Linked DNA regions of Homo sapiens. The protein of the gene in region 3 purifies or fractionates together with the protein of the main gene of each other region. This does not show direct contact. Each region holds a gene or a part of one and is shown on either strand. Other genes may lie near its edges.

What was found. The genes of interacting proteins can lie anywhere in the genome.
Region 1: the proteins of MCCC2 (region 3) and ALDH1L1 purify together in Homo sapiens (co-immunoprecipitation; one large-scale study listed by IntAct). This does not show direct contact.
Region 2: the proteins of MCCC2 (region 3) and HMGCL fractionate together in Homo sapiens (co-fractionation; one large-scale study listed by BioGRID). This does not show direct contact.
Region 4: the proteins of MCCC2 (region 3) and YTHDF2 fractionate together in Homo sapiens (co-fractionation; one large-scale study listed by BioGRID). This does not show direct contact.

Annotation. Positions count from the first base shown.
Region 1 is NC_000003.12:126,149,587-126,153,086, forward strand, and holds part of ALDH1L1 (cytosolic 10-formyltetrahydrofolate dehydrogenase), read right to left. Parts: intron 946-3,500; coding exon 820-945; intron 1-819. UniProt on the Homo sapiens protein: Cytosolic 10-formyltetrahydrofolate dehydrogenase that catalyzes the NADP(+)-dependent conversion of 10-formyltetrahydrofolate to tetrahydrofolate and carbon dioxide.
Region 2 is NC_000001.11:23,804,930-23,808,429, forward strand, and holds part of HMGCL (hydroxymethylglutaryl-CoA lyase, mitochondrial isoform 1 precursor), read right to left. Parts: intron 3,395-3,500; coding exon 3,206-3,394; intron 1-3,205. UniProt on the Homo sapiens protein: Mitochondrial 3-hydroxy-3-methylglutaryl-CoA lyase that catalyzes a cation-dependent cleavage of (S)-3-hydroxy-3-methylglutaryl-CoA into acetyl-CoA and acetoacetate, a key step in ketogenesis. Terminal step in leucine catabolism.
Region 3 is NC_000005.10:71,600,840-71,604,339, reverse strand, and holds part of MCCC2 (methylcrotonoyl-CoA carboxylase beta chain, mitochondrial isoform 1 precursor), read right to left. Parts: intron 1,835-3,500; coding exon 1,707-1,834; intron 1-1,706. UniProt on the Homo sapiens protein: Carboxyltransferase subunit of the 3-methylcrotonyl-CoA carboxylase, an enzyme that catalyzes the conversion of 3-methylcrotonyl-CoA to 3-methylglutaconyl-CoA, a critical step for leucine and isovaleric acid catabolism.
Region 4 is NC_000001.11:28,760,940-28,764,439, reverse strand, and holds part of YTHDF2 (YTH domain-containing family protein 2), read right to left. Parts: intron 1-3,500. UniProt on the Homo sapiens protein: Specifically recognizes and binds N6-methyladenosine (m6A)-containing RNAs, and regulates their stability. M6A is a modification present at internal sites of mRNAs and some non-coding RNAs and plays a role in mRNA stability and processing.

The DNA.
Region 1 (3,500 bases), on a different chromosome or scaffold from region 3:
GGAAGTTGCTGGCTCTCAGCACCTTTGGATCACACAAATGCCTCATGTCCATCCTTGCTGAGCCTTGCCGCACATGTGCTGTTAACACCCAAGGTCCCCAGCTGTGCCCACCTGACTCTGCCCCTCACCCCCTGGGCTCCAGCTACAGTGCCCTCCCATGGTGACTCCCTGAACACAGGGAGGCCTCTGCCCTGTTAGGGCCTTGCCATTTGCTGTTCCTTCTCTCTTGAAGGTCTTCCCCCAGATCTCTTCTCTCCACCCAGGGAAGAAGGATACAGTGGGAGGGAGCATGAAGGGTCAGGAACAAATTCCAGGAAGTGAGCATGGATGGAAATTCATGTTGAGAAGACTGAGTCTTAGAGACGAAAGCTCCCTACAGCATCATATTGGGGCAAAGCTGGATTGGAGACCAGGTGTGCCTTATGGGCAGCTTGTGTTGGTCACAGCCCGGGATGCTGCCTCTGGTGCAGCCTTTCTGGAAGGCTCCAGTGCTCACATTCTAATCACAGGGACATGGGCTTGACACCTGACTCTTTCAAATATTCCAGGAGCTTCTGTTTCACTTATTAAGTGTTGACAATGAGCCCCTAGAAGAGTCAGACTGAACTGGCCAGATCCCAGGGCCCCAGTTGCAGAGGAAGGAGCAGCAAGAAGACAACAGAAAGCTCCAAGACGAGATAGAACCAACACTGCACCTGGAGCCAAAACAGACACCCACAGAGGGCTGGCGCTGCCCAACTCTGGGGAGTGTGATTTGCAGAACACATGTGCACGGCACAACCTGCCCAACTGGATGGCAGCCCTGAAGTTGCCTCTTACCCGCACAGCCTCCGCAGTAACCAGCTCTGCCTCTGTCAGCTCAAGGACACTGCTGGCTGCCCCCTTAAAGAAGTTCGAGGCCAGGATCATTTTGCCATCCTCCAGCTGAATATTCTTCACCAGCAGCTGCAAAAGGAAGGATTTCTTTTCTTTTCTTTTCTTTTTTTGAGACAGAGTCTTGCTCTGTTGCCCAGGCTGGAGTGCAGTGGTGCGATCTCGGCTCACTACAACCTCCGCCTCCCGGGTTGAAGCGATTCTCCTGCCTCAGCCCTCCTGAATAGCTGGGATTACAGGCGCGCACCACCATGCCCGACTAATTTTTGTTTGTATTTTTAGTAGAGACGGGGTTTCACCACATTGGTCAGGCTGGTCTCGAACTCCTGACCTCATGATCCATCCACCTTGGCCTCCCAAAGTGCTGGGATTACAGGCATGAGCCACTGCGCCCGGCCAAAAGGAAGGATTTCACAGTTCCTGTGGTCGGACCTGAGGCAGTGATGAAGGTGTCCCACAAGGGGTGCTGTGCTGGGCGCTCCAGCCTTGTCTCCAACCTTCAGATGAGGAAGAAGCAGGGAGTCTCAGATTAGTGATGAGTTCAGAGTGGGGAGGCCACTATTCCAGGGACACAGAGGGAATTGCAGAGCTTGTGTCCCCTACCAGCTGCTCGATTTTCCATCACCCACTCCCACCACACTTTCACTTTGTTTTTAAGTGTAATGACTTTATTACTTCTATAAAAAAGGATTCCTACTGAACAAAAAAAGAAAACGTCATTCAGGCACCACATAGAAAGTCAACTTAGAAAAAAAAACTAATCTTGCAATCACCCAGTAGCTCCCAGAACTGCCACAGAAACACCTGGAGAACATCACCAGATGCCTGTGTGGGATACAGAGGTGGGAAGAGGAGAGGCTGAAAAAGGGTCTGGCCGGCCCTGCAGTCTGCAGCTTCAGGATAGCACTTCAAGCTGGTCCCAGGTAGAGCCTGCGTCCAGCCATCAGTTCAAGGGGATTCTGGCTGCCAGACATGAACTGCCCCCATTGTAGCTCATGACTCTGGGCTACTCTAGTGTCTGCCTCAGATTTACTGTATTTAATAAGATGTTTGAATTGTTTGGGGCCTGCTTGTTTATCAATAGTTTTTCAACAAATGCTTTTGTTAGGGGCCAGGAAAAAAAACACATGTACAAAAAGAGTTATGGATAAGCTCATGGGTGGGTGCATGTCACTGTGCGTTAAGAGTGGCTGTGTAAGAATGGTACTCTGTATGCATGCTCTGCCAGAACTGGAACTTGCCTCTCGGCCTGACCCTCGCCCCATTGCCTTTCAAAGATGTTCTGGAGCTTTCTGCAAGCTAAAGCCCAGCCAGACTCCACAGGGCGTGGCTGAGAGATGCTTCAACCCAGGGTCTTCTGGGTTGATCTGTGGGGAGCAGGGTGTGTGTGCTCAGCTGGTCTCTCCTCACTCCCCTCCCACCCTGACCACCTCTGGACAGTGGACAAAGCTCTTGTGAGAGAGCTGATAACCCCAGCTTCCTCTTAAGACACTTAATTGCCTTCTTTGCATTCCTGTCTTTGCAGGTCTCTGGACAGATGCTGTGGGTGCCCTGCTCAGACCCCTGTGGCTGGTGCCCTGTCCTCCAGCTGCAGCAAGGGCTGGATGATAACGGCCTGCACTGTCCCATCCTTGCTTGCTGTGGATGGATAAGAGCTCCTGTACACAAAGAGGCCGAGGGATTATGCCTGGTGGGTCCTCCACCCCACCCCAGGGGCCACTGAAACCAAAGGCTGACAGAGGTGGGGACAGGCAGGTATAATTGGAGGGTGCAGTTAATACTCCAAAACCCACCCTGGGAGCAGCCCCAGGCTAGACTTCTCCTGAACCTTTACTTTTGCTTTGCTTTCCTCTGCCCTTACTGCCTCGCATGATTTTCTGGAACATTCCCTCAATAAATCACTTGCACAAGAATTTTTACCTTAGATGCTGCTTCTAGGGAACCTGACCACAGACAGATATTCTCTTGCAACTGCATATATCAATCTTGGATACCCAAAACACTACATTGCAGACATCAACAGCAGCCTAGACCTTCTGACAGGGGAGCATGGCAGACTGGACACCAAGAGCGAGCAAAGGCCAGGCCCCATACTGCCACGCCTCACTCTGGTAGGCCGGACACAGCAACACGGCTGGGGGTACCACGCCCATGGGGTTTGTCCGGACCCTGTCAGTGTGTGGGAAGATCCCTGCCTGCCCTCTCCCTACCCCCGGCTGCTCATGTGAGAAGGAGTAGTAGAGTGCATATGAACAGGAAGCTACCATGGCCAAGACCAGCATCACGGCTTTGGAGCCAGAATTTCAGAGTCTGAATCCCAGCTCTGCCACGGGCTAGCTTGGATGATCCTGGACAAGTTATTTAAATCTCTGTTTTTTTCCTCTATAAGGATATAATATTTATACATATCTCATAGTGTTGTTAGGCAGATTAAATTTAACGCATATACATTGTTCTGGTATAAAAGGTGCTCCATCAGTGTTTGCTGGTACCGTGAGTTGTAGTCTGCTAATAACAAGAGCAGGTGGCCGGCATGGCTCCCAAGGCTCTGCACGTGCTAAGTTACCATGGCATCGCCGTTCAAAGAGATGGGAGCTGAGGCACAGAGGCTTAATGACCCCACACCC
Region 2 (3,500 bases), on a different chromosome or scaffold from region 3:
CCTTGCCACACGAGGGCCACATCCCATCTTCCCAGGTCAGTCACCTCCCACTATCCCAAATGACTATTTCACTTTCTCCTCTCTTCTTAAACCTCTATCACCCCCTTCCCCATCCTCATTCTCATCTGCTGCTTTATGGAAATGGATGCAATCAAGAGATGTCTCCATTGATTCCCACCATCACATCTACCCACCTGCCTACATCTGGGCCTACAGACCCACTGTCCCTCATGCTGCCTGAGATGGACCCTGAGCTCCTAGCCAAGGCCAACCCCTCCACCTTGGCGTGAGGCCCATTCCCACCTGCTTCAGGATGTGCTCCAGTAAGTCTCTCCCTCTCTGCTGCAACCTGTTACTCCCCTCCACTGGGTCATCTTCACACAGCCTGCGATCTCTCCCATCTTTTACAAACCTTTTTGGAACCCTCTAACCTCCAATTTCTTTCCCCCCATTCAAAGCAAAGTCCCTCAAAAGAGCTGTTCCCATTTAACATCTACCATTCTCATTTGAACCCATTCGAAACAGGTTTGCGTCCCCACAACTCCTCCACTGAAACAGCTCTAGTCAAGGCCACTGGTGGCCTCCATGTAGCTAAGTACAAAGGTCAAGTCTCTTCATCTTTGCACTTGACTAGCCGCATCATCTTGGACACCTTCTCCATGTGGCTTCCAGGGCTCCACATCCCTTGGTTTTCCTCCTAGTGCTCTAGCCTCTCCTGAGGCCTCGATCCAGTCTTTGCTGGCTCTTCCTCACCTCCCTGATCTCGGTTGGAGCCCTTACTGCTCATTCCTCAGACAGCTTCTCTATCTCCACTCACTCCCAGTTAACTGCACCCAGGTTAACACACCTGCCTATAGATGTCTCGAGCTTCACAGATCAGAACACGAACTGCTGAGATCCGGTCACGCACCTCTGCCCTCCAGGCCTCCTTGCCATGTCTCTCACCTGGATTGCTGTAGGCTCCAAACTGGTTCTTCTCTCTACAGTGTATTCTCTACACAGCACCCAGAGGAGCCTCTTTTTTTTTTTTGATAAGAAGTCTCACTCTGTTGCCTAGGCTGGAGTGCACTGGCGCCATCTCAGCTCACTGCAAATCACTGCAACCTCCACCTCCCGGGCTCAAGTGATTCTCATGCCTCAGCCTCGCAAATAGCTGGGATTACAGGCTCACGCCACCACGCCCAGCTAATTTTTATATTTTTAGTTGAGACAGGGTTTCACCATGTTGGCCAGGCTGGTCTCAAAACTCCTGACCTCAAGTGATCCACCTGCCTCAGCCTCCCAAAGTGCTGGGATTACAGGTGTGAGCCACTGTGCCCAGCCGAGGAGCCTCTCAAACGGAACATTTCAGATCATCTCCCTCCCCGCCCCTGCTCAAGACTCTCTGTTAGCTTCCCAGCTCAGTCTGAAAGAGTCAAAGTCCTACAAGGCCCCCGATCTGGCCTTCCTCTAACCCTGACATCTCTGCCCCCCTCTCCTCAGTCACACTGCTCCCGCCACATGCCTCCTCCTGATCCCTGAACACAGCAAGCACACTCCTCCCTCAGGGCTCTGCGCCTGCTTTCCTGGGTGGGGCTCCCTTCCCTCCCCCTCCCTGCTAGGGATCCGCAGGGCTCACTCCCTCGCTTCCCTCAGGTCTCTCTCAAATGCTACCTTCTGAGTGAGGCCACTCTACAGAAAGGCCTGGCACTGCCTTAACCTGCTTCATTTTTTCTCCACAGTGTTTATGAACACCTGGCCTGCTGTATGTTTGTTTATTTATTATCTGTCTCATAGTACTAGAGTGTCAGCCTCATGAGGGCAGAGACTCTGTTTTGGTCACAGCTGAATCCTTAATGCTGAGAACAGTGCCTAGCACACTAGGCACCGTTAGGTTAGGTTTTAATAGGTGAATAAATGGTCTTACAATGTGCTATTTACACGCCTGTAATCTTCCATCTGTCTTCCCCACCCACCATAACATGAGCTCCCAGAGGGCAGGGATTGGGTCTTGTTACCATTGTCTAAGTCAGCACTTAACCTGGCACATCGATCCATATTTCCGAAGTAACTGATGGAAGAGGGAGGTCAGAGGAAGCTACTGCCAGACGTCACACAGCTCAACCTGTTCCCTGATAAATTTTCAAAAAGGGGATTCTGAGATATCACTGCCATGAAACAGAGAAGCACAGAGGAGCAGGAGTGTCCTGAGCGTGATCAGGATGAAGTTTTGCCTCAGACTCACCTCAGCTGTGCAGAATTCCCCTTTACCTGCCTGGCAAGGCATAGGAGAGGAAGTCACTCTTCCTGTCTGCCTGGCTGGGAAACGCATGAGCTGAAGGAAAGCCCAGGAACCAGGGCAGGGTATCACAGTAAGCTGAAAAATGAGGAGACCACAGAACTACGAACCTTAACCTTGACAGCCACAACTCTGAGGAAACCGACCCAGAACATAACAGACTCACCTGGCTTAGACACGAACCTCTAGGGGATAATTGAGAGGAAAAAAAAAGTGGCTGGAACTGCCATCACTATCCTAGAGATGGAAGGTTAGGCCAATGCTACAGCAAGGTAGCTGTGGTCAGACACTAAGAATGCTCCTTCTATCTGGCTGCCAGCCAATGGATCTCCATTCTGGACCAGCCCACGAGAAGCAAACCTCAAAGGAAACTAATCTGAGGTCTTAGCTCAATCTGTGGGGAACGGCATTAAAGCCTCTCCCTCTGAGTGACCTCTGCTAGCTTCTCTACCTCCTGCTTCCTCATCTGCTTCTGCTACACACCCGCACACTGAAAACCCTGTATATTGTATGAGTCCTCCCTGAACCCCACATCAGTCCTGAGGTGCAATTCTGCCTAGTCATCTTTCCTCTTCCCTCAACAGCAGCTTACTTTATGTTCTTCAAGCTTCACTGAGGCCTCTTTTGCAAATCCTCCCAGATCTCCTCAGCTGGGATGGGGCCCCTCTAGGCTTCCTGAGCCCCATGCTTCCTCCCTTCATGGCATCTGTCATAATGCAGTGGGATTGCCATGTAACTCCCTTGACTGTCTCCCCAACACAGAGCTGTACACTTCACATCTGGGCAGGGTCACCATGACTGTGTCCACCATTGCCAGCTTGGAACCTGGCATACTGGCATCAGTAAATGTTTGCTGAAAGAATAAATGATAACAAGCTGTCCTGCCCACCGTGACCTTTGGGAGAATGGGCATATGCTTTTGATTACCTGCAGGGCCATCAAGGTGTTGGCCAGGGCTTGACCATAGGTGTCATGGCAGTGGACAGCCAGGGCAGCCAGAGGCACTTCCTGCATGACAGCAGATAGCATGTCTTTCATGATCCCTGGGGTGCCCACACCAATGGTGTCCCCCAGGGAGATCTCGTAGCAGCCCATTGAGTAGAACTTCTTGGTGACCTAAGGAAGCAAGCAGGCACTTGGAGGATACAGAATCCACCAGCCAGGGGATCCATGCACTCAGAAGAGGGGGCCTTTGCCTGGGCAGAACACTTCTGGGTATGAC
Region 3 (3,500 bases):
AGAAACATAAGCATCTCTATGAACTAAATGTGCTACGCAGAGGGAAACTTGTATCAATGACAGCATCAGTTCTTAATCACATTCACAAAAAACTTGCCCTGTCTTTCTAAACTGTTATAGAGCCTCGTTCTCCAAACCCCCAATGCAGCCAAAAGGATTCATTGCCCCAAACCCATCAGGCTTTCCCACCTCTGTGCAAAATTCTTCTCGAAATGGTTAGAACCTTCTCTCCTTTGAGGACCAGCTAAAGCCCCAGAAACATCATAAATTCTTAAAGAGTTAAGGTGGAAAAGTATCTTTCCTTCTTCTAAACCAATACAAAAGCCATCCACAGAATTCATATAATAATTTATACATATTGCCTTCTGATACTGTTTTCATTGCAGATTGGAGTGGTGGGTACACAGGTCAGTTGCGTTCAAAGCAGAGCTCATGACTTCACAGCTGTGTGATTATAGGTGTGTTTCCTAGCCATCCTATGCCCCGGTTTCCTTACCCACGAAATGAAGATAAAAAAAGGAGCCATATCATATATTAGGATGACTTGAAAAATGTATAGAAAGCACTTAGTTCAGAATCTGCAACCATTAAGTCTTTTGTTGGTTGCACATTATATGCTGTGTCCAATTCATTATGAGCTCGCTGAAGACAGAGACAACAAAATCCTCCTCACTGTATCCCCTATAAAGACCAGCACAGCACCTACAAGCAGCTGGGCCTCATTTGCTGTTTTCTCTACGTGCAGAGCAGTTCGTATTGTGAGTTAATCAGGTAAATTCAACTTCACAGAAAAACACAAAACAAAAAATACCTCTACATCAGTACCCGTTCAAATACCTGCATACATGAACAACGTATGTTGGAATTTTATCAGACTAACCCAGTATCAGGAAAGGCCCATTTTTTTTTTTTTTTTTTTTTTTTGAGACAGTCTCTCTCTCTGTCGCCCAGGCTGGAGTACAGTGGCACGATTTCAGCTCACTGCAAGCTCCGCCTCCCAGGTTCACACCATTCTCCTGCCTCAGCCTCCCAAGTAGCTGGGACTACAGCTGCCTGCCACCACGCTCGGCTAATTTTTTGTATTTTTTTTTAGTAGAGACGAGGTTTCAGTGTGTTAGCCAGGATGGTCTCCATCTCCTGACCTCATGATCCGCCTGCCTCGGCCTCCCAAAGTGCTGGGATTACAGGCGTGAGCCACCGCGCCCGGAGGAAAGGCCCATTTTAAACTGCTTTGCTTTCAGGTTCTTTGATTTAAATGTGTTTTAATTTCAAATATAAGTTTACTTTCACTGGAAATTAAATTTACTTTAAATTACATCTGCTCAAATTATATAATACTTGCACATTTAACTCAGTACCTGGCACTCAAGAGATCTATAAATACTTGCTACTATTTTTTTCATAGTATGATCCATAAAGTTAAAAGAAAAACAGGATCTAGAGAACAAAAAAAAAAAACCACACAACACATAGAGAAAAAAACTGGCATGCGTCAAAATGTATGAGTATTATGCACTAGTACTATGAACAGTTCTTGTTTACTTTCCCCCAGAGTTTTCAGCAAAGAACCTGTGTTTCCTTTATAATTACAGGAGAAATCAACAGGTTTATAAAATACCCATCCCAAATGTAATACATACAGCCTTCCAAACTATCTTGCATTTTACCAGCTAATAATAGTTTATTTTACCACTCTGGTGACTTGCCTAAGTAGATGCAGGGGAGCCTGTTTTGCATGGCAATTTCTTGGGCCCGTAATTGTTTTTTCACAGTCACTGGGTAGTAGGCACCTCCTTTGACGGTGGCATCATTGGCAATAATCATGCATTCTACTCTGAAAGGCAGAAATTTCATTGGAGAGAGAATTTAAGAGATTTCTTCAAAACTAATTACACTCATTACAAGATACCCCAATACAACCTTCAACTTCTAGTACGTATCACTATTAACATCCATTAGCAGACAGCAGTCTTAGGATATAAATGCAAACTTTAATCACAGTTCACATATTAATTTATATAATACAAAACAATTACTTCTAACAAGTTTATAAACTCACACTTGGTTTTTGAAAAGTCATCAGTCCTAGATTAGTAATAAAAAACTAACAACCTAAGCCTTGTGTCATAATGGTTCTTTGAATGAAAAGGTCCTAATAAGATGAAAATAATAATGAAAAAAAAAATCCAAGTCTCAAGGGAAAAGAATTCCCTCATAATAAACCTTCAAAGTCTCCTTTTAGGAGGGTATTTTGCAAAAATGAAAACTGACCTTTAGTACTAAGATTTATTTTTTGTATTCTTGTTCTTCAACATTACAGCCCCATGGTTTTCTACAAAACTAAATGTAGTCTAAAATATAACGTTCATCTTAACTGAAGTCAGAATGAATGCAAACTTTAATATACTAAAAACACATGAAAGGTATCCTGAGTCATCAACAGTGCCCTTTCTCACCAAAACCAGTTTATTGGGTATGAGTCACAAAGAGCAGGGCGGCCAACAACCACAGCTGGTTGGGGAAACTGTACAGCACTGGCAGGAAACCTTAAGGTCAGAGGTACCCTTGAAATCTGAGATGACAACAGTGTGCTCTTTACAAAATTCAATTTTCTTTATGTTTCTGATGTTTGTGTTACCTCACTTTATGCTGCCTACAACTCTAAAGAGTGAGTCATTAAATCCCTGCTGAAAATAGAGAACGGCAACTGAACACCCAGCACAGGGTAGTGTTGAGCTTCTCATACTAGGATATGTGGCCAGCAGGGCTCGCCACAAGACAAACAGGACTCTTCTTTGAGCATCAATTTTATTCCCTAGGTCATATAAAACCTTTTTCTGCACTGCAATGAACATTTTATAGAGTAGAATGCAAACTTTTAATGATTTAACATTAAACGAACTAGACTTCAAAGGAAATGTAGGCTTCTCATAGGTTGCTGGGCCATAACCTCACACTCCAGAGTGTGTGCTCATACTTCCTACCACTGGGGGTGCTACGCTAGAAAGTTTAAGAAGCTCTGGTACTGGAAAGAGGCCAGGCTGTGAAGTCAGACAAAGTTAGACTGAAATTCTGGCTCTGCCAACTTGTTAGTTATGTGACCATGGACAAGGGACATAGCCATATCTGCTTGTCTATTAAAGGTCACAGACTTGTTACAGAATGAGAAATCAAATTGGCCCACAAAAATACTAGATTGCATTTCTATTGGTTTTGCCTACCCAGCATCTATTATTTTGGCAACAAAACTAAACCTTCTTTCAGAAACTGCCTCTTATCTTTAATCCAGGTGGCTCAAGTAGGACTGACCCCAGAGCCTGCCTTAAAGGGGGGCACAGGGACCAGGTCTTTCTACCCAGAGTTCCCACTGAGGCTCGGCAATGGGACAGGCTCTAAGCCTAAGCAGATCTTGCCTTCCACTGCAGCTGCTAAACTTATAGAATATAAACCAGGAACTGCCTATGACCATCACTGCCTCTGGATTTAGAGAGGCTGCCTAG
Region 4 (3,500 bases), on a different chromosome or scaffold from region 3:
AATTAGCCGGGCGTGGTGGTGGGCGCCTGTAATCCCAGCCATTTGGGAGGCTGAGGCAGAGAACTGCTTAAATCCAGGAGGCAGGGGATGCAGTGAGCTGAGATCGCGCCACTGTACTCCAGCCTGGGTGACAGAGCAAAACTCCGTCTCAAAAAAATAAAAATAAAAATAAATAAAAATAAAAAATTGGGCCGGGCACAGTGGCTCATGCCTGTAATCCCAGCACTTTGGGAGGCCGAGGTGGGCGGATCACCTGAGGTCGGGAGTTCGAGACCAGCCTGACCAACATGGAGAAACCCCCGTCTCTTACTAAAAATACAAAATTAGCTGGGCGTGGTGGCACATGCCTGTAATCCCAGCTACTAGGAAGGCTGAGGCAGGAAAATCGCTTGAACCTGGGAGATGGAGGTTGCAGTGAGCCGAGATCACACCACTGCACTCCAGCCTTGGCAACAAGAGAGAAACCCCGTCTCAAAAAAAAATAAAATAAATAAATTTAAAAAATAATAATAATAATAAAGATATGAGCTGGCATGAGTTAAAGTATATATAATAGGAAAAAAAAAAACAAAAGTTGGTTCTTTGAAAAAATTAAGATTACTTTGTACCCCATAAATATATACAATTATAAATTGTCGGCCAGGCTCAGTGGCTCACGCCCATAATCCCAAAAAAAAAAAAAATTGGCTGGGCACAGTGGCTTACGCCTGTGATCCCAGCACTTTGGGAGGCTGAGGTGGGCGGATCACCAGGTCAGGAGATCGAGACCATCCTGGCTAACATGGTGAAACCCCATCTCTGCTAAAAATACAAAAAATTAGTTGGGCATGGTGGCACACACCTGTAGTCCCAGCTATTCAGGAGGCTAAGGCAGGAGAATCGCTTGAACCTGGGTGGTGGAGGTTGCACTGAGCTGAGATCGCACCACTGCACTCCAGCCTGAGCAACAGAGGGAGATTCCATCTCAATAAAAAATAAAAATTAAAAATAAATAAAAAACTAGCCAGCCCTGGTGTCAGGCACCTATAATCCCAGCTACTCAGGAGGCTGAGGCAGGAGAATTGTTTGAACCCAGGGGGCAGAGGTTGCAGCGAGCCAAGGTCACGCCACTTCACTCCAGCCTGGGCAAAAGAGCAAAACTCTGTCTCAAATAAAAACATTAAAGATATTAACTATGAATAAATTAGGAAACTACAAGTCCAGACAGATCTGGTCTGTGGCTTAAATAACTAGAAATAATGTCGACATCTCTATCCACCCATCCACCTTAGGCCCTCCTCACTTTAAATCTATGATTACAAAATAGAAAACTCGGCTGGGTGCAGTGGCTCATGCCTGTAATGCCAGCACTTTGGGAGGCCGAGGCAGGTGGATCACTTGAGGTCAGTAGCTCAAGACAGGGCTGGCCAACATTGTGAAACCCCATCTCTACTAAAAATACAAAAATTAGCCAAGCGTGGTGGCACATGCCTGTAGTCCCAGCTATTCAGGAGGCTGAGGCAGGAGAATCAATCACTTGAACCCGGGTGAGCCAAGATCGCGCCACTGCACTCCAGCCTAGCCAACAGAGCTAGATTCTGTCTCAAAAATAAAAATTAAAAATAAAATAAAATAAAATAGAAAATTCAGTCTCTGGAGGAAATATACAAAAAGCCATAAGGTGGCAATGTTAAAGTCTGCACATATGCAATCTCTTCATATAATATTCAAAAACAGTAAATCTGCCTATTTAGCTTCCCTCTATTTAAGCTTAATAACCTTTCTACTTACTACTGCACTGTTCTATCCCTCCCTCTCCCTTCACTTTCAAGTGGGCCATAAAACACAACTGAGGCATATTCATATTCACCTGGATATAATTTTATTAACATTAAAATCTGGTAAATGTTTATCTCTCCCACAAAATTAAATCTATATAGCTCTCAACTAGTTTTTCCTATGCCCCCATGAACCTTGAAAGAAACCCAAAGTTCAGCACCCCAGCTGACAATATAAAATGCTTAGACGGGAGTCATTCTTTGAGACGGAGTCTCATTCTAAAATTCTTTGAGACAGAGTCTCGCTCTGTTGCCCAGACTGGAGTGCCGTGGCACAATCTCCACTCACTGCAAGCTCCACCTCCCGGGTTCATGCCATTCTCCTGCCTCAGCCTCCCGAGTAGCTGGGACTACAGGTGCCCGCCACCATGCCCGGCTAATTTTTTGTATTTTTAGTAGAGACGGGGTTTCACCGTGTTAGCCAGGATGGTCTCGATCTCCTGACCTCGTGATCCGCCCGCCTCAGCCTCCCAAAGTGCTGGGATTACAAGCGTGAGCCACCACGCCCGGCTAGGAAAATGTGTTTTTAAAAGTGATGTGATGACACAAAAATTACTTCCATTGCTTGATATGGTTTAATAGAATCAACCTTTATAGTCTCCAATGCCGTGAATAAGTTAAATAAGTCTAATGACTTGACTTTAGACTTCAAGTCATATATATATGAAACATCAAGTCATATATAATTAAGATGCTAACTTCCCCCAGATAAAGAGACAAAGTATTTTTCATCAGTTCTCCAATTTAAAGCAAGGCTATAATATTTTATTAAAAATATCTATTTTGGCCATGGTACCTCCTGCCTACAAGCCCAGCACTTTGGGAGGCTGGGACCAGCAGTTTGAGACCAGCCTGGGCAACATACTGAGAACCTGACTCTACTAGAATTTGAGACAGAGTTTCGCTCTTGTTGCCTGGAATGCAATGGCGCAATCTCGGCTCACCGCAACCTCCACTTCCCGGGTTCAAGCGATTCTTCTGCCTCAGCCTCCTGAGTAGCTGGGATTACATGCGTGCGCCACCATGCCCAGCTAATTTTGTATTTTTAGTAGAGACGGGGTTTCTCCATGTTGGTCAGGATGGTCTCGAACTCCCAACCTCAGGTGATCCACCTGCCTTGGCCTCCGTTATGTGCTGGGATTACAGGCATGGGCCACCGCACCAGCCAGAAATTTTTAAACATTAGGCCAGGCATGGTGGCTCACACCTGGAATCCTAACAATTTGAGAGGCCAAAGGAGGAGGATCACTTAAGCCCAGGAATTCAAGAACAGCCTGGGCAACACAGTGAAACCTTATCTCTCCAAAAAGTTTTTTTAATTAGCCAGGCATAGTGGCGAACACCTGTGTGGTCCCAGCTACTTAGAAGGCTGCAAGAAAAAGTATGCTTAAGCCCAGGAGGTCAAAGCTGCAATGAGTTGTGATCAGGCCACTACACTCCAGCCTGGGTGACAAAGTGAGGCCTTCTCTCAAAAAAAAAAAAAAAAAAAAATACACACACACACACACACACACACTCATGCACGATATAATGACATTTCAGTCAATGACAGATCAGTAAGATTATAATGGAGCTGACAAATTCCTATCACCTAGCGATGTCGAAGCCACTGTAAGGATGTAGCACAAAACATTACTCACTTGTTTGTGGTAATGCGGTGTAAACAAACCTACCGCACTGCAA